Homo sapiens: one gene and its partners. The protein of the gene in region 1 purifies or fractionates together with the protein of each later gene. This does not show direct contact. Each region holds a gene or a part of one and is shown on either strand. Other genes may lie near its edges.

Region 1 (8,759 bases):
ACGAGGAAATGAAGCACAGAGAAGGTAAGAAACTTGCCCAGGACACGCAGCTCTAGAGCTGGGATATCTATAAGCTTGGCAGTCAGAATCAGAGCCCAGCCATTCTCTTTTCTGTCTCAAAATAAATGTGAAGGCTTATCGGGGTAGGGAGAGGGGAGTGGGAGAGGGATGCTAGTGATCGACATGGAATTTTTTTAAAAAACAGTTTTCCAGAGTTTAAATCAAACTTATTGCAGGAACAACAAAACACTTGGATAGTTGGATTCCTGGTAAGAATGTGAATATTCTTGTGCAGGATAAAATGCTTTATTTTCTAAAGGTTTATAATCTCTGCAGAAGTTTCTAATTCAACAGTTCCTTTGGGAAGGTGCATAGCAAAGATGCCTTATTCATCAGCACAGCAATAGATCTAACGTTCCCGCCAGGGGTACTGGTCAGCGTTGGTTCTTTAGAAAGCCTGTGTAGAATCGATTAAAAATTGCTCAGCACTTACTACAGCCATTTTCAACCAAGAAAAAAATAATTTTCGGGACTCACTTATATTCCACAGTTTAAATATGGACAATTAATAGGTCAAGGTCCAGGCTGGAAGGGGACCACTTCGAATCTTGAATGCAGGGGCAAACAGCTCAAGACACCATGGCTGATGAAGACGCTATGTACACGCTTTCCAGTATGAAAACCAATGAGCTACATGGGGCTGGCGAACACTTGAAAGGTGGTGAGTTAGAGTTGAGATGTGCTGGACGTGTAAAATAATACATCCTGGAGTTTGAAGACTTTTGTATAAAATTACTTAAGATATCTGAATTTTTCAAATGTCGATTTTTTGTTGAAATGATATTTGAACAGATTGGATTAAATAAAATGTATTATTAAAATTAATTTCACCCATTGCTTTTTCCTTTATTTAATGTGGGCTACTTGGAAATGTAAAATTACACATGTAGCCCTCATTCTATTTATTTCTATCGGACAATACTGCTCCAGGGGTAGAGGAACAAAAGAATCCCAAAGATGATGTCCCCTTGAGTGAACAAGAAATCAAAATATCCTGGGAGAAGATAATATCACAGACATTTATTTATGTAGCTGACAGTTTCTCAAGACTTTGTACCAGGAACTTTGTTAGTCATTGAGGTTAACAGTGATTCAGAGATTTGCGTTTTTTTCTAGAAAAGCTGAAGGCATCAAGTAAAGGAAGAAGTCTGGGAGGTGAAAATTTGATCTAAGCAAGCAAAAACATGGTCTGAGAGATTGTGATCTTAATTTTAGTACCAGCTCTGCCACGTACAGGTGATCAAACATGAACAAACTACTTTAACCTCTTTGAGTCTTAGCAGAATCACCGGTTAGCACAAGTTTATCTCCTTCTGCTTCTAAATGTTAGGAGAAATTCTACTCTGGAAAAACCCAGCCACTTCGCCTTCTCTGAACCTGCCCCTTTGTTGGAGAAAATCATACTCCTGAGCAGGCTGACTCCGTCAAATTCAAATGGACTTTCAGCTCTGCTCCACAGTCTGACTGCTTTTCACGAGTCACCTTGCTTTCTCTAAGATAATTATCTCATAGATCTTCCTTTTTCCTCGAAGGCACTTGTTGCTTTCTCTTTTCCTTCCTCCAGCCATCAAACTCCATGGGGGACACATGCAGTCTAAGGGAAGCGCCTTTGTGTGCCCATCACCAAAGCTCCACACCCATCCCCATCAGCAACTGTCTTGCCCTACTCCCTTCCGGTTAAACTGTGGAAGCTCCAGGGACCAGTCTCCACCAGAGCTCAGGCCCTCTTCGCTTCCTGCCAACAGACTTGACTGTTTTGTTTATCTGTCTCTCCAGCTTTATCCATCTCTCCCTGGCCACGGGAGCACTTGCCATCCTTGGGGTCTCATTTCCCAGCCACTGTTCTCTGTCCATCATCTCCTTCATGGTTCACCTTCTTCATAATATCAACTTACAGGTTGTTTTCATGTCATCACCTCAGTCACCCTTCTGCAGGTCAATCAGACTAATGCCTCCAAGATGCCCCTGACATTTCTCTGATTTAAGCCTGTGAAGATCTGCACGTGGGCCTCAATTTCAACACCTCAACTGCACAGAACACAACCCACCTCTTCTTCTTCTGGTTTCTGTAACTTCATAGACTCTGGGTGTAGGAGGAGCGGTCTCTGAGCCCAGTTTCTCAATGTCTATCTCTGTCCTTTATCTTCTACCTAACATCTCATTTTAGATTCCTTTGTAGTCAGTCCTGAACTTTCTCTATTTCCTCACTAGGCAATCTCTTCAGCAACTTTAAAATCTACCTATATGATGGTCACTGTCAAATTTATAGGGTTGGGCCCTTGTCCCAGAGGAATTCCAAGCTCATGTGAAATTGTCTATTTGATGCTTCAACTTGGATGTCCACCTCTCCGACTCAACATGTCCAAACTGGAAAAATTCATCTCTCCTTCCAGTCTTCTTCACTCCGTCGTGGCTCTGTTATCTACCACACTGCTCGGCCTCGGGCAGAAGCCAGAACCTGCGGCATCATCCTTATATCCACCTCTTTCATCTAATCTTTTGGCAAATCCAGTCATTTCTAACATCAAAATCACCTGAGAACCTGCCCCTTTGCTCCACCTCTGCTGACGTCTCACTGGTATAAACCACCAACCTCCCCGCTTGGAGGATTCCTTCCATCTCCTCTGGTTTCACTTTCACATCTCAACGCACTATTTCTACTACAGCATCCCAAAGTGGGCTTTCTACTACAAGTTGCACAAAATACAATCATTTTTCCAGGCTCCAAAGAAACCCCGCATGACCCAGGCCTTGGTGCCTTCCCCAGTGTGGGCTTCCAGTCTGCGCAGCCCTTGCAGCTGTCACCACACTGGTCCCATTTCAGTTCCTGGAACACATTGGACTCTCCCTCAGCAGGGTCTTCCAGCCTGTAAGGAGCTTCCTTCCTCCTGCTCTTCACCTAACCAGCTCTGTCACTCTTCAGCTGTCAGTTTCAATGTTCCCTCCGTTGGGGAGATTCCCGGACCACAGAGTCTCAGTAGGCCACATGCTTACTCTCCACCTTGCACCTTGTTCACTATCTTTGTAGCACTTAATATAAATCGAAGCCATACATAGCTGTTTATTATCTGTTTCTCCAACTTCGCAGGACCACGTCTGTTTTGTGTTATGCTGTCATTGGAAGAATGCGGTATCTTCCATGAATCAGATACCCAGTGAGGATTTGTGGAATGAAAAAGGAAACGGTGGGAGAAGGAAGTCAAAAGATTTCATAATGAGTGACAGAGTGGAGTAATAGACATTGGAGACTACAGATGGCAGGATGGGAGGGAGGGAGGATTGAAAATTACCTATTGGGTGTAATATTCACTCTTCGGATGGTGGGTTCACTAGAAGCCCAGACTTCCCCACCAGGTAATATAGGCATAGAAGAAATCTGTACTTGTAGGCCAGGTGTGGTGGCTCATGCCTATAATCCCAGCACTTTGGAAGGCCAAGACAGGTGAATCACCTGAGGTCAGGAGTTTGAGACCAGCCTGGCCAACATGGTGAAACCGCATCTCTACTAAAAATACGAAAATTAGCCAGGCGTGGTGGCATATGCCCGTAATCCCAGCTACTCAGGAGGCTGAGGCAGGAGAATCTCTTGATCCTGGAAGGTGGAAGTTGCAGTGAACCAAGATGACACCACTGCACTCCAGCCTGGGTAAACAGAGTAAGATTCCATCTCAAAAAAAAAAAAAAAAAAAAAAAAATTGAAAAAAGAAATCTGCACTTGTACCTCCTAAATACATATAAATTTTTAAAAATTTAAAATTCATAATGATACACTGCCCATGTGCTAGCCCAGTTTCCCCCCTCCATTAGGTAAAATGTAATTTGTCTTCCGATTATACCTCAACGTTTACTCTAAAAGAAATATTTGCTTCTCAACATAAAATTATGCCTCTGTTATTATCTCTAACCTTGTAAATGCCATGTTGCTGTATCTTATCATCATTTGCCTTTATTTACTCTTTTACTGTCACTTCTAGCTGGGGGTGCCACAAGGATTATTCTCATATAATTAATCTAAACTATGCTTTCTGGCCACTTTCTATGCCATTTTTCTGGAAAAGTAGAGCAATGAAAATTCTTCCTGTATATAATTTGTGTATATTTAGGAGGTACAAGTGCAGATTTCTTTTTTTTTTTTCTTTTCTTTTTGAGATGGAGTCTCACTCTGTTGCCCAGACTGGAGTGCGGTGGCATGGTCCTGGTTCACTGCAACCTCCGCCTCCCGAATTCAAGAGATTCTCCTGCCTCAACCTCCTGAGTAGCTGGGATTACAGGCTTATGCCACCAGGCCTGGCTAATTTCTAATTCATCCTCTGGTTTGGGTAATTCAGTAAGAATCATTATTGAAGAGGAAAGAGTTTTGGGGAGATGGATGTTCACTGATAAATGGGAGGATGCAAGTTCTGGCATTATTCTGAAGAATTCGTGGGCTGTAACATTTAACGTTCTGATAAAAATCACTGCACGTCAAAGAGGAGTGTAAATACTCACCATGGTTTCTCGGCTATTGATAGCTGATCCTGTGCACTTTGCTATAACTTTATCAATACACTTCTTGTGAATTGCTGCATTGCATTCTGAAAAGAAGAAAAAAATCACAGCTTAAGATTTTCATAGCCTAAGGAATAACTAAATAAAAAGAATGATGGTAATGCAACCAAAACCCTCTTACTTACGTCGGCACTGGTAGCCCTGTTTGTTCAGGCCCCTGTAATAAAGCACACGCTGATTTATTTCAATGTTGGCATCAACATCAGCACCAACAGCATTTAAGAGATGGATGAGATCTCATAACCCCCTAAGATCACAGAGCAGTTTCTGATCAGCAGCCCTGTTGTATCATTTGCCAAGAGTATTAACAGAGTGTTTTTCATTTGAAGCTGCGTTTTAAAAAGTTTGATAATTAAATAAATGAGAACTGGCTGATTTATCATCCTTGTATTTTCCAAACATATAGAGATTAAAATGCATGAATGAAAATGCATGCATCACAGACTCTTCGTAGCACGTTTCCCTGTGCTAGATTTAAAAATTCATGGCCTCGCTGAGCTCACTACAGACGAACAAAGACATCTGTAACATTTTATTTCCTCTTTCTGAGCATCTGAGAATATTTGCAACCAACAAAGTCTCACATGCAGGACCGATTCCTGAGTGACATCCATGATTAGAGAGAAAGGAGGTTCAAGTGATTAGACGAAAGCAGGCTGATGAAAACCCGCCAAGTCGATCTGGCATGTGGATACCCTGGTTACACAGGAGCTGTGCTTTAACAGTTTCTGCAGTAGCCTAAAGGGAAGAGTATCCCTTAATAGGCTAGGATGCTGAGAGCCAGAAACAGGAGTTATTTCAAGTCTCCACTCTGTCATAGCCTTTGCTATGTGGTTACTGAGGTTTAAACTGATCTGTTTGATGGCTATTAAGATACCCAAGAGCCTCATAAGCATTTAAACCATTAGCTACAATGGCAGAGTGCTGCCTGCTGGAAAAAGTAGCACCAGCAGGGTTGGGCCATTAGGTGGGGGAAGTTTTGACTATAAAACTGGAAAACTGTTTGTAATAAAGATACCTTTCACTTCTGTTTCTTCCCACTTACCCCCAATAGCCCCCCCATTGAGGCAGAAACTAAAATCCCATGGGCATTTTTCCTGACTAGACCTGGCTTCCTCATGCACCTCTTTTATTGGATCACACCATTTGAACCTTCTCAGTTCAGGCAAGGTCCCTGACAACGCTGAGGTAGCATTTACTCCAGCACACCCCCCACAGTGGAGCATGCCAGCGTAGAGGATTAAGAAGACGCAACAAAATGCATAACCCGAAGCTTGGAGGGAGATGCCAAGTTACTGTACCAGACAAACTCGTGGCAGACAGAGCAAAATGTGGGCTGTGGGAAGAAGGTGGCAGTGAACTCGTGGCACTTGACGTGGTGGACCTTTGCCTGCTTGATGGCACCCCGGCGCTGATGCAAAGCAAAGAAGCCTTCCGTCTCAAATTCATTCATGTCCTTTGTGTCTACAGGAAGAGAGAGGGGAAGAAAGTGAAGTTCTGCAAAAGGACGACTCCTATTCTAAGCTGGGTCAGGAGGGGAGGGAGATGGGCAAGGGATGGAGGAGGACCAGCTCTGAGTACCTGCTGTAACATTCCAGGTACTCATTATGGTGGGTACCACACTAAGCATCTTTCCTCAAATTCTACAACACAGATTCATCATAGGGCATATTGTTAGAGGGTGAAAACAATGTTGGATTGCTGGCTCAATCCTTCGCTCCTCTTTGACTGGGCTGAGCGATATATCCTCTTCAAGTTTCAAAACCAGAGATTAGAACTTTGAAGGGATCTATCAACCTCTCTTTGTCACCATCAATGATGACTCAGTCAGAAAAGGCAGGAAGTGGCAAAGGCTTTCCTGTCTGTAATTCTAGAGAATCACATGGTTACTGACAGCCTCTTGGGAACAGCATTTCAGAGGTGCCAGGATGCTTTATAGCAGGTTGTTGGAGACATGCTGGAGTAGACTAGGGGGAGCTGACCAGGATTTTGTGTGAGGAGAAAGGAACTTTGGGACATTGTGTCCTGGTTCCTGATGTCCACAGTGATCAGACACACCAGCTGCCAACCATATTTACCAATGTGAAAAAGGCCAGAAAATTAATAGCTCACTGCATTTTTTTGGTGTCTAGGTAATCCTGTGCATTACCTAGTCATCAGCATCAAACCATCAGATTCAATCTATTCATTTTACTCTGGGCTCATAAATATTGGTGAAAGTGCTTTGGATAGTCACTGTTTACAGTGCCCTATACCTGAATGACATCTTTCCAAAGGGTTGAAAAACTAAGATAGTCAAATTATGAGAATGCTCAGGATGCCCTTGCTGAAGCCCAGGTCCTCATGAAACACCAAATTGTAAGGCAGTCATGGTTAAACAGCACAGTGGACACAGCAGGTGAGAGAGAATAACACAAGGAACAGTAAAGAAATAAAAATATCCACTGCTGTAACAAAAATGATACACAAATAAATATGTGAATAAATAAATAAGGATAATGAATTTAAATCCCAGAGTTATAATTTTGTAATAGCTTGAAGACTCTTGGATTACTTCTTCTATTTTGTTACAAATACAAAACATTGAGGTTTCATTTAAAAAGCAGGTTCATCATATTTCACAATGAGTTAATAATATTCAAACTAAATTTCTTCTATTGTGGCTAAGCAGTGGCAGTAGCCTGACAATGCGTTTGGGGCAAATTATCTTCCAAGATACCTTATTGTCCAATCCCTAACAGTGGCTAGATTAGAAACACTCTAGGTAGACAAAGGAGGAGCTGTGTGGGTAGAAACCTCCCCCAGGAATCCAGCCACATCCCAGGACACATTGTAGGACTGAAGTCTTTTCTGTAGTGTCCGCAGATTTGTTTTATGGCAACCCCAACTTCCAGACAAAAAGCATTTCCAGTAACCCTCTAACAGTTCCACAGATGGGACATAATACTTTGCCTAATACTTTAAGAGTAGGTAATTTTGGTCTTTTTACCTGGAACTAGGCTGGAAATAATAGATTTGGCTTGGTAAATGAGGGGTTAAATTAAGGATCACTGAGTTAATCACCTTCTTCCACAAGTTCTGGTCTAAATGTCCAAATCTATTTACAACTTGTGACTAGTATAGTAGGTCATTTGTTTATAACATGTGACTTGTTTCTATTTTGGTCCAGATGAAATAAAATAAAATAAAAATAAGTATAAATACACTTTTAAATGCAGGGAATGAAAGTGAATTATTATGGGGACCCTATACAGGTTTTTACTGTAAAAATCATATATGTTTATATGTATATTAAACATATTTTATACATATATCTATACATATATGTTTATATACATATATGTCTACATATAGTTTATATTTTTATAAACTATAAATATATAGTTATATACACAATTTCTACATTAGACTATAGTACTATAATTTTTTTAAAATATCAGGAATTTCTAGAAATGAATTAATACCCTGTTATTTTCTGTGATTTTCATTATTCTCTATTTCAATCATTACAAAAGAATAAATGTAAAAACATAGAATTCTTTAATTTTTTTTGTATTGACTATATTTATTTCTCTATTTACTGGTTTGAATGAGCTCATTGGTTTTTGCAATTTTTTTTCTTTTATACTAATGGATTCTAATCTATTTATGTGGTCTAACCTATCACTTGTTTGTAGTCAATCAAATTACAAGTTTCCTGAGCAGCTGTGAGTAAACTGCCTTGCTGAGTGTGCTGAAGAAACACATTATTCCTCACCCTTGCATGGCTAACAGTCAAGTCAGGGAGACGTGGCACAGGCACAGAACAGCCAACCTTAAGAGGCAATATATGATGGTGTGGAATAGGCTCCGAGATATGTGTACCCATATTTTTTAGGAGGTAGGAAAAGAAATGGCAAAAGAGACCAAGAAGAGGCAGCTGAAAAATTAAGAGGAAAACCTGGACAATATCACATCAGGCAAGCTGAAAAGAAATGAAGTTTTCAGCATTGTATGATAGAGAGATATCAAGGAAATTGAAGGCTAAGAAGCAGGAACCACTTGTGAGAACTCATAATCTTGGAGACCCAGAGTCTTAGGGTCTAAGAATAGAAGTAGAAGGGAAGAAAAAGAAACTGATAAATATAAACTACTTTTTAAAGGAATGTGTT
Region 2 (2,722 bases), on another chromosome or scaffold:
AATGGCACAATCTCTGCTCACTGCAACCTCTGCCTCCTAGGTTCAAGCGATTCTCCTGCCTCAGCCTCCCGAGTAGCTGGGATTACAGGCATGTCCCACCACGCCTGGCTTTTGTATTTTTAGTAGAGACGGGGTTTCTCCATATTGGTCAGGCTGGTCTCGAACTCCCGACCTCAGGTGATCTGCCTGCCTCAGCCTCCCAAAGTGTTGGAATTACAGGCGTGAGCCACCGCGCCCGGCCTGGATTTTCACTTTTTAATCAATTACACTGTTTCAGCCATAAACTTTTTTTTTTTCCATTTTTTTTCTTTCTTTTCACAACTTGTCCTGTAACTGAACAGCCATAAACTTTTAAAATGACTGCTTTGGTTGGCATTTTCTTCGTCAAAATTCTTCAGTGGCTCAGTTGCCTGTAACATAAGCTCACAGCCCTTAGCCCAACATCCTTTCCCTCCCCAATCTGCCCGTCCTTGCCTTTCGGGTGTTATTTCCCACTGTCATTTACCAGGGTTTCCAAAATTGTGCTTTATTAAATGCTAGTTCATTGGAATGTTAATACATGTTTCACACACACAATCAGCAGGAGAAAATGTTTCTATAGCCAAATGACATTGATAAACAGTGTTCTTACACAAAGTTAAGCCTGTTTCTTTATTATAAGACTTTTCAGATACTTTCCCAGTGCATAGTGTGAATCTCCACAAAGCAAGTGAAACATGAATAGCTCCCTAAACTTACTTGACCACAGAATGCTTCATTCTATCTCCATGGAAACCACTTGTGAAAGTCTCCTACTCCAACTTTCTTCTCCAACAAAACTCACCTGTTTGTGATCATCTGAACTCATTTTGTGCTCTTGCCTTTATATAAAAGAGAAGTTCTGTGAAATGTTGAAGAAGCAGGGTTATGGCACTAGTAATGATCCAGGCACTATACAAATTGTTAAAATTTTCCATTATTTTAGTTCAGAAGCCCTAACCATAGGTATTCTAACAGTGGATTGTGGAACCCAGTATGAGTGTTTGAGACATGTTACAAAATATAGGAGCTATTTTTAAAATGAATCCATTTAATAATACTGCTAGATGCTGTGAGAGACAGGGACTCCCCGGCCCAGCACACACGCTTGAGCAGGAATGGAGACATGGGCATGGGTAGGCAGGCTGGTGGTCAGCAGATACCCTTTCTGTCCCTCCTCTGTGACAATCACCCCCAAGTAATTTTTGGGATTCAGAATAAGGCAGCTGCTCTCCCATCCTGGTTACTATGAGTCGCTCTTGGCAGAAAGGACCACAGATGGAGAGCTTGGCACTCGCTCCAACTTTGCCGAAAAGAGGACAACCACCAAAGTAGTAGGTAAAAACACAATTTTAGCAGCAGTGAAATAAAAAGAGGAAGTGAGGATGGGGCCAGGCCGCAACTATAATTAAACTGTCTGTTTAGGAGAAGCTGAATCCAGAAGAAACACAAGCTGTAAAGTGAGAGAGGACAGGGAGCAGGGCCTTTGGAGAGCAGGAGAGGACAGGCTGTCACCAAGCGCTGCTCGGACTCTGCCCTGAAAGATTTGAATTGGACACTGTCCAGTCACGTGTGTGGCAAACCGTACTCCAAGCACTTTTCTCACGGCAGAGGAAGGAGCTGCCATGGCTGTACCCCTGAACGTTTGTGGGGCCAGCGATGTGCGCTGGGCCTCTGTAATGGAGGACCTCCAGTGTGCAGACAAGGCGCCGGCAGTGCCCACGGAGGGCTGCGTCCTGGGTCCTGGGTGAAAGTCACAGCTGCTGAGGAAGCGAGAGCTCCATCTGGATACCAGAGACCCCTGGGCCATCAGTGCAGCAGGAACCACCATGTGAGAGCCGCGGCCAGGCAGCCCCACGTCACGCGGCCTGCTCCAGGCAGCCCCATGTCAGGGGGTCGAGTCCCCCCACTGCACAAGGCCTGCTATGGGCTGCCCCATGTCAGGGGGTCGAGTCCCCCCACATCATGAGGCCTGCTCCAGGCAGCTGTGCTCTTCTTCTTCCGTCTGTAACCAGCTCCAGTCTAGGGCCTGAAAGTCAACAGACATGTTAAAAAAACAACAGCCACCAACACATTTCAGGTTATTTTTCCTCTTCAGGAGGAAATCAGGACAATTGAGAAATATACTAAAACCCAGCCAGGCACAGTGGCTCATGCCTATAATCCCAACACTTTGGGAGGCCAAGGTGGGCAGATCATGAGGTCAGGAGTTCGAGACCAGCCTGGCCAAAATGGTGAAACCCCATTTCTACTAAAAATACAAAATTAGCCAGGCGTGGTGGCAAGCTCCTATAGTCCCAGCTACTCAGGAGGCTGAGGCAGGAGAATCACTTGAACCTGGGAGGTAGGGGTTGCAGTGAGCTGAGATCGTGCCATTGCACTCCACCCTGGGCAAAAGAGCAAGACTCCATCTCAAAAAATAAAAAATAAAAAGAAATATATTGAAACCCCTTTATTGGCTGGGTATGGTGGCTCATGCCTATAGTTCCAGCACTTTGGGAGGCAGAGGCGAGCGGATCGCTTGAGGCCAGGAGTTCAAGACCAGCCTGGGCAACATAGCAAGACCCAGGCTGCATAAAACAAATAAATTAAACAAATACAAATTAAAAAGCCAAACCCTTTTATTAATAAATCTTGTGACTGCAGGGTACTCTTAAGCTAAGTTACATATTCAAACTGTACAGGATCTTTTCTTTGAATTGGC
Region 3 (7,063 bases), on another chromosome or scaffold:
ACACTCTAAAATAATATAGTATAAAAAGTATAGTAAATACATAAACCAGTAACATAGTCGTTTATTATTGTTATCAAGTTTTATGTACCATACATAACTGTATGTGTTAAACTGGCAACACAGCAGGTTTGTTTACACCAGCATCACCACAAACATGTGAGTAATGTATTGACCTTACAACAGCTACAGTGTCACTAGGTGAATCTTGAATTTTTCAGCTCCATTATAATCTTATGGGAGCACTGTCATCTAGGTGGTCCTTCATTGACCCAAACATCATTTTGTAGTGCATGACTGTGTTGGGTTTTTTTTAGGCCATCTAGTCTGTTGAAACTACTCAACTCTGCTATTGTAGCGTGAAGTATGAGTAAGTACAATTATTTATGGACACAGTCATGTTAATTTCATATCATTTTCACGTGTCATGAGGTATTCATTTGATTTTGGGGAGCTCCATTCCCTAAATATCATTAGGTATTCATTTGATTTTAGGGATCTCCGCTCCGTAAGGCACTGTGATGAAGACCACAGCCATTTAAAAATGTGAAAATTATTGTTGGTGCAAGTGTTGTACAGAAATGGGTGGCAGGCTAGATTTGGCCGTGAAGCTGTAGTTTGCCAATTCCTGGTGTAGGTTATTGATTGGAATTTTTAACTCAAAGAACAAGTATCTTTTACTTTTACCAGTATAAGTTCAAATTCTTAGGATATTTTTGCTTATTTATATATCTTTTATTTCTTATGCCTCAGGAGTGCCTGTGAAGAAAACGGGGTATTGCCCTGAGGCTTATATTCTGCCTCAGTTGTCTTTTCTTGAAATATTATAAATCAGAATGTCTGCACAGTCAGTGGAAGAAGATTCAATACTTATCATCCCAACTCCAGATGAAGAGGAAAAAATTCTGAGAGTGAAGTTGGAGGAGGATCCTGATGGCGAAGAGGGATCAAGTATCCCCTGGAACCATCTCCCAGACCCAGAGATTTTCCGACAGCGATTCAGGCAGTTTGGATACCAGGATTCACCTGGGCCCCGTGAGGCTGTGAGCCAGCTCCGAGAACTTTGCCGTCTGTGGCTCAGGCCAGAGACGCACACAAAAGAACAAATCTTGGAGCTGGTAGTGCTGGAGCAGTTTGTTGCCATCCTACCCAAAGAGCTACAGACTTGGGTTCGAGATCATCATCCAGAGAATGGAGAGGAGGCAGTGACAGTGCTGGAGGATTTGGAGAGTGAACTTGATGACCCTGGACAACCGGTGAGCCTGCTTGTGTCATTTCCTGTGTCAGAAGCACTGGCATAGGTAGTAGGCAAAGCTGCTGAATTAATTCCACTCAACTAAGTTAGAATTATGTTTATGCCTTTTCCCCCATTCCCCTACCACTCCTTGTTATCTGTGCCGCTTTGCCATCTAGGCTTCTGCAGTATTTGTTTCATGGGGTTTCTCTTACGTGTTTTTAGTTCTGATTCTCATTACAGTTCCTTCTCTGAATCAAATCTTTCTGTTTCCAGGTTTCTCTCCGTCGACGAAAACGGGAAGTACTAGTAGAAGACATGGTATCTCAAGAAGAAGCTCAGGGATTACCAAGTTCTGAGCTTGATGCTGTGGAGAACCAGCTCAAGTGGGCATCCTGGGAGCTCCATTCCCTAAGGCACTGTGGTGAGGACCAGAACTCTGTGTGGGCTAGAGGGTGAAAGAGAGTATAGGCCTTTTGTTCAGAACTTTGCTTGTTCTCACTGGTGGGGGGATCATATCACTCTTAATCTAATATCTCAGTTTTTTTCTGATTAAGTTGATTTTGCTGGCCTCAGACCTTTTATTCCTAGACATTAACATCTTCAGCCTTTTCTTCCCTTTCAGTCTCCTTCCTAAAAAGAGTTGCCCATGTCAGGCTAGCATTTGCCTTACTTTGAGCCAGCACCCACCCATGGACCAAGTCCCTCTATTTTGCATTCAGTATTACTTGTCATCTGTTTTACATCCTTTTACTTTCAATCTCCTGCCTAATTCCATTGGTACAGTAAGCTTACCTGAAAACCTCTTCTAATCTCTTTGTTGTATATCACTGAAATCTTTCTAAATATTTATTTCTGATTTCCTTCAACGTCTACCTAGAGTCATTTTCTTCTAAGAAGCTTCTTTTGTAGAAATATTTGGAGTAATTTTTTTCCTTTTTCTAAGTATTTATGCAAAAAAAGCCTCCTTAGCTATAACATGCTTTAAATGCAGAAAAATCTTTTTTAAAAGCTCAAAGTTGTATTAATTCACGAGACCAGTCTTTCCCAATATATTAGCCATTAACACCATATACTTATGTGTATCCTTTGATATGGCCCAGTATATTCCTAAAACTGCTAGATTGCTTTCTCATGTTTATGTGAACTAAAATGAAATTTTGTTTGACTCTGCTTTAGTAATCATTCCTTGAAGTAGTTGGAGATGGTGCTGGTATGCCACTGAATGAGGTCTGAGCAGGTTTTCTTCACATCTGAGGGGACAGTGCCAGCCAGTCAACTTTTGGGGTGGGGCTGAAGTCTGCTGAAAATCTGCAGTTTTACATGTTTCATGGGACATTCTTCTGTGCAATAAAGTTTGAGAAGTATCATTCTTGATATATGGGGCTGATATTTTCAACTTCTCATCATCTGAATTTTAGAGTGACTTTTCACCTGCGTTCCTTATTTCAGCTGTCTAGTCTCTTCCACACTTGGGAATTTCTGTTTCCTGTGTGCCGTTTGTCTCCACTTAATCTTCACGCTCCTCTGTTTTTCAAGTCTCCAAGCCTCACTATCCTCCTCTAACCTTTCAGTCTCTCTCTCTTAGCCTTATCTCCTGACTTGATCTTTTTGTTAATTATTTACTGTTTTCCTCTTCGCTGAAGGCAGTTGCTAACCCTATATGAACTGGATCTTTACTCCTTAAGGCATGAAGTTTTAGAAAAGTCTTAAATGACACTTGCTGTTATCTCTGCCTGCGTGTGAGTGATGCTAACCCATGTTGGTAATTCAGGCTTTTCTTTCATTGGACACGTTTCACTGAGGCTTAGAAATAACGATTTTTCTAAGTACCATGACAAATACCACATGGGAGAAGCTGCTTTTATTGGAAAACTTTCATTTATTAGGGGCATACTGAATTTTTATGTCATGTCTTTGGTTAACACAGGAGGCCCCCAGCTTATCTTCAGCCCCTTCTTGTCAAGACTCCTGTGTTCTGCTTTTAGGCTAACATTGGCTGTGACCTGACTTGGCTTGTTCATTTCAGAAATAGCCACTTTCTGACATGTTTTTCTAATTTACATCTTTGTATTTTGATGTAATTTCTCCCTTTCTCAAAGTAAAAGAACATTATAATGATTTCCTAGTGGCCAATTTTATTTTATTTTTATTCTTACAAAGTTTCATCCATACCTAGCCACATCATTTTGACTATCTCCCTAACCATCTTAGAATCTACCATCTTTCTGACCTTTGTTTTCTGACTACCATTTGTAAACCACTTGCCTATGTTTTATTCAGATATCCCTTATATCATGATGTTATACTGTTATTCAGAGTAATTTCATTTTTTCTTTTTTGAGAATAGGCCTTAACACCAGTGTCAGAGTGGTTTATAGATGTGTGCTAGCTATTTTAGTTCATTAAAAAAAAAATTTTTTTTAGGTTTCTTTTCCCTTAATAGATAATGAATGATATTTACATTTTCTGTTTATTTCAGATGATGATGGTAGGACTGAAAATGGAGCACTAGCTCCAAAGCAGGAGCTTCCTTCAGCATTAGAATCCCATGAAGTTCCTGGCACTCTCAATATGGGTGTTCCTCAAATTTTTAAATATGGAGAAACCTGTTTCCCCAAGGGCAGGTTTGAAAGAAAGAGAAATCCCTCTCGAAAGAAACAACATATATGTGATGAATGTGGAAAACACTTCAGTCAGGGCTCAGCCCTTATTCTTCATCAAAGAATTCACAGTGGGGAGAAACCTTATGGATGTGTTGAGTGTGGGAAAGCATTCAGCCGAAGTTCCATTCTTGTGCAACACCAGAGAGTCCACACTGGAGAAAAACCTTACAAATGTCTTGAATGTGGGAAAGCCTTTAGCCAGAATTCGGGGCTTATTAATCATCAGAGAATCCATACTGGGGAGAAACCTTATGAATGCGTTCAGTGTGGGAAATCGTATAGTCAAAGCTCAAATCTTTTTAGACATCAGAGAAGACACAATGCAGAAAAACTTCTGAATGTTGTGAAAGTTTAAGAAATTGAAAAAAAAAAAAGAATCAGCACTCAGGTCTTTTTCTTCAGAAATGAAGACAAAATTTAAAATATGAAATGATGCAGAATAGTTTTTTCCCTATTGACTGTCAGAAAATCCACTGGGAAATGTAAAAATCTTCACTCACCATTATGATATTTATCTTGAAAGAAATGGTGTCATACCTGCCTAGAAACTGAAATTTTAAACTTAATTCAGGTCTTAATGCCTAAATTTTCCATGTGATGTTTATAGTCTGTATTACTTCTCCAAATAATGAACTACCTGATTCATTGTCCCTTTCTTGAAAGTTTCTTTTTTAAGACAAATACATTATTTCTGCATTGATCATTGAAATGTTCTTTATATGGATACATTCCCTTATATATTAAAAGGCAACAGGAATTACAAAGTCTGAAAACCATTTTAAACCATCTTTTAAAAATTTACCCTTATTTCCTTTTACCTAATTTGAATATGCATTTGAGAAAATAAGAGGATAAAGGATGGCTAAGAGCCTCAAAATGAACCATAAGATCTCAGATAAGAAGTGATGGTGATAAAACATCAAAAAGTGAATGGAACACCTTGATTGGGGAAGATATGCAAATACTTTGATCTAAGAATTGAAATGTATCAAGAATTTATATTTTGCCTGCAGGAAAATTCAAAAGCTACTCATCCTCTCTATAATTTGGAGTCATCTTACTAATGAAAATAATGTTTTCCCATATATTATTAAAAAGCATACAGTCTAAATAATAAACAGTTGTAAAATAATGAAGGTAGAAATTATAACACTAGGGAAAAATTTGTAGCGGATGGCAGTGTTGAAGGCAAATGTAAACATAAGGGTAATGGTCTGTCATGGCTTTTAGAAAAAGATGATAGAGTTCATCATTATTTTGCCTTCATCTTTGTTAAGGACAGAAAATTCCCTGACAGGTGGGCAAGTATCAGGTTACCTATTTTTTATTCCTTTGGTACAAAAGGGTTGAACGTCAGGCTAAAAAAGCAGCCATGCATTTATTATTAAACATTTTCTACCGACAAGGCACTGTGCTAGGTACTGTAATCCTACCATAAGTAGGTAGGTATTTCTTCCACTGTAAATCATAGGGGTTTGCTGTTTTATGTGAGTTAGCCTCTTCCCCTTGTCTGAGCATTCCTCAGGGGAGGTCACCTGTGAGGTTCCCAGAACTGTAGTTTTTTTTACCAGGGTGTTGTATTTGGAGGGGGAGGAGGACTCGGCTCAAAAGAGCTAGCTGGCTCTCCAGTGTTCAGAGGTGAGTCCACGATACTCTTACCACAATTTGGAAGTTTGTGAATCTTTTTAAAGAACTAATCAATCTCTAATAGCATTGAGGTTGTACCTACATATTAAGTTGAATGGACTGTTCTATTTAAAAAATAAACAACTAGACAATTAACTAGTTTATTAACCTATCACAATTGAATTTTTTTTTAATTTTCAGTCTTAACACATTTTTTAAAATGTATTAAAGTAATACATTGTAGTAGTAGGATTATATACTCCTTGGCTGAGAATTCCAAGTACTGTGGTTCTACTGTTTAGTGGAAAACTCTGGAAGTTAAAATATAGAATATGAGAGGAGGCTTTTTTATAATGGGCATCATTGTGTGGAAAATGACCCATGTGAATACAAATATTTCCTAGTTCAGAGATTTTGGTTATATCTGGTGCTTGGATCAAGTTTAAAAATGGAAGGTGAGATTTTGCATGAGCCTATTAAAAAGCATAGTAATAAATGCAAGGCCAGCTGGTGGAAAAGTGAGGCAGAATGGAGCTTGTTTATAGGTTTTCTGATAACAATTATAAAAAATGTGCTTTATAGATTAAGATTTATTGAAGTATAAATATGTAGTAATGATATAATGTATTTTAAGTTATACAAGAAAATGTAGGGACTTTTGTTTGGGTCTTTTTCTCTTTGTGGCTGAGGGGAAACAAGTCAGTGTCCAATAAAGCTGTAAACTCCTCTGCTCTAAGATAAATGATGTGATTTATTTATTTATAACTGGCTTCTTTCCAAGTAGGTTTTCAGGTGGCATATTTGGAAGACGGCTGGAATGACAGAATTCTTGTATCAGAGTAGGTAAGAAGGGAGCAACCTCTCAATGGCTATTATGTCATGCTTTTTAAGATCGTATGCGGTTCCTATATACAAGGAAGCTTCCCTGTGGTAGATTTGTCATAAATGCCAAAGATATTTGGTAATGTGAGTGTAGAAAAAGTAGTATGAGGGTTGGCAAATACTGTTTTTGTCTTGGCAGCTCTAATATCTGCATTGTTCAGAAAGGATTCTGAGGCTAAGGCAAAGCTCTGTGGGAAAAAGGGACTGGACCAAAAAAAACTGGATGGTGGCACACAAGAAGAGGAAATGATGAGATGTGTACTTTCTATCTCTGGTTAGGCTTAGTCCCCACTAGACAAATTGATTTTAAATACTATGTAGTGATTTTTAAATTCCATCCACACATTCATTACCCACACAGATAATCATAGAAATTTGGGGGAGTGCCTAGCTTCTGATGAAGTGGTGATATGGCAGTGCCAAGCAGTGGCATCGCCAGAGTATCTGTTTGGTTAGCAAATGAGCAGTCATTTTAGGTCATGCAGATTGCTGATATCTGCCCAGTAGCCACTGAGCATTTGCTGGTTTTTTCTTCTGGCTTTCTTGGAGGTTAAGCTCTCTGTAGTCATACCCAGTTGGTACTTGATCTTTAGCAATATGTCTCATATTCATGTAAATTGAAGGGAGGGTTACATGTACTGAAATAATCTGCATGCTA

What was found. The genes of interacting proteins can lie anywhere in the genome.
Region 2: the proteins of PRKCQ (region 1) and IKBKB purify together in Homo sapiens (affinity purification with western blotting; 4 studies listed by BioGRID). This does not show direct contact.
Region 3: the proteins of PRKCQ (region 1) and ZNF24 purify together in Homo sapiens (affinity purification with mass spectrometry; 2 studies listed by BioGRID and IntAct, with this or other methods). This does not show direct contact.

Annotation. Positions count from the first base shown.
Region 1 is NC_000010.11:6,492,487-6,501,245, forward strand, and holds part of PRKCQ (protein kinase C theta type), read right to left. Parts: intron 6,073-8,759; coding exon 5,910-6,072; intron 4,766-5,909; coding exon 4,734-4,765; intron 4,635-4,733; coding exon 4,549-4,634; intron 891-4,548; exon of another isoform or gene 573-890; intron 25-572; exon of another isoform or gene 1-24. UniProt on the Homo sapiens protein: Calcium-independent, phospholipid- and diacylglycerol (DAG)-dependent serine/threonine-protein kinase that mediates non-redundant functions in T-cell receptor (TCR) signaling, including T-cells activation, proliferation, differentiation and survival, by mediating activation of multiple transcription factors such as NF-kappa-B, JUN, NFATC1 and NFATC2.
Region 2 is NC_000008.11:42,330,239-42,332,960, reverse strand, and holds the end of IKBKB (inhibitor of nuclear factor kappa-B kinase subunit beta), read right to left. Parts: exon of another isoform or gene 2,622-2,722; intron 2,048-2,621; coding exon 1,982-2,047; 3' UTR 501-1,981; downstream 1-500.
Region 3 is NC_000018.10:35,334,421-35,341,483, reverse strand, and holds part of ZNF24 (zinc finger protein 24), read left to right. Parts: intron 1-750; 5' UTR 751-833; coding exon 834-1,253; intron 1,254-1,507; coding exon 1,508-1,655; intron 1,656-2,410; coding exon of another isoform or gene 2,411-2,424; exon of another isoform or gene 2,425-3,713; coding exon 3,714-4,252; 3' UTR 4,253-7,063. UniProt on the Homo sapiens protein: Transcription factor required for myelination of differentiated oligodendrocytes. Required for the conversion of oligodendrocytes from the premyelinating to the myelinating state.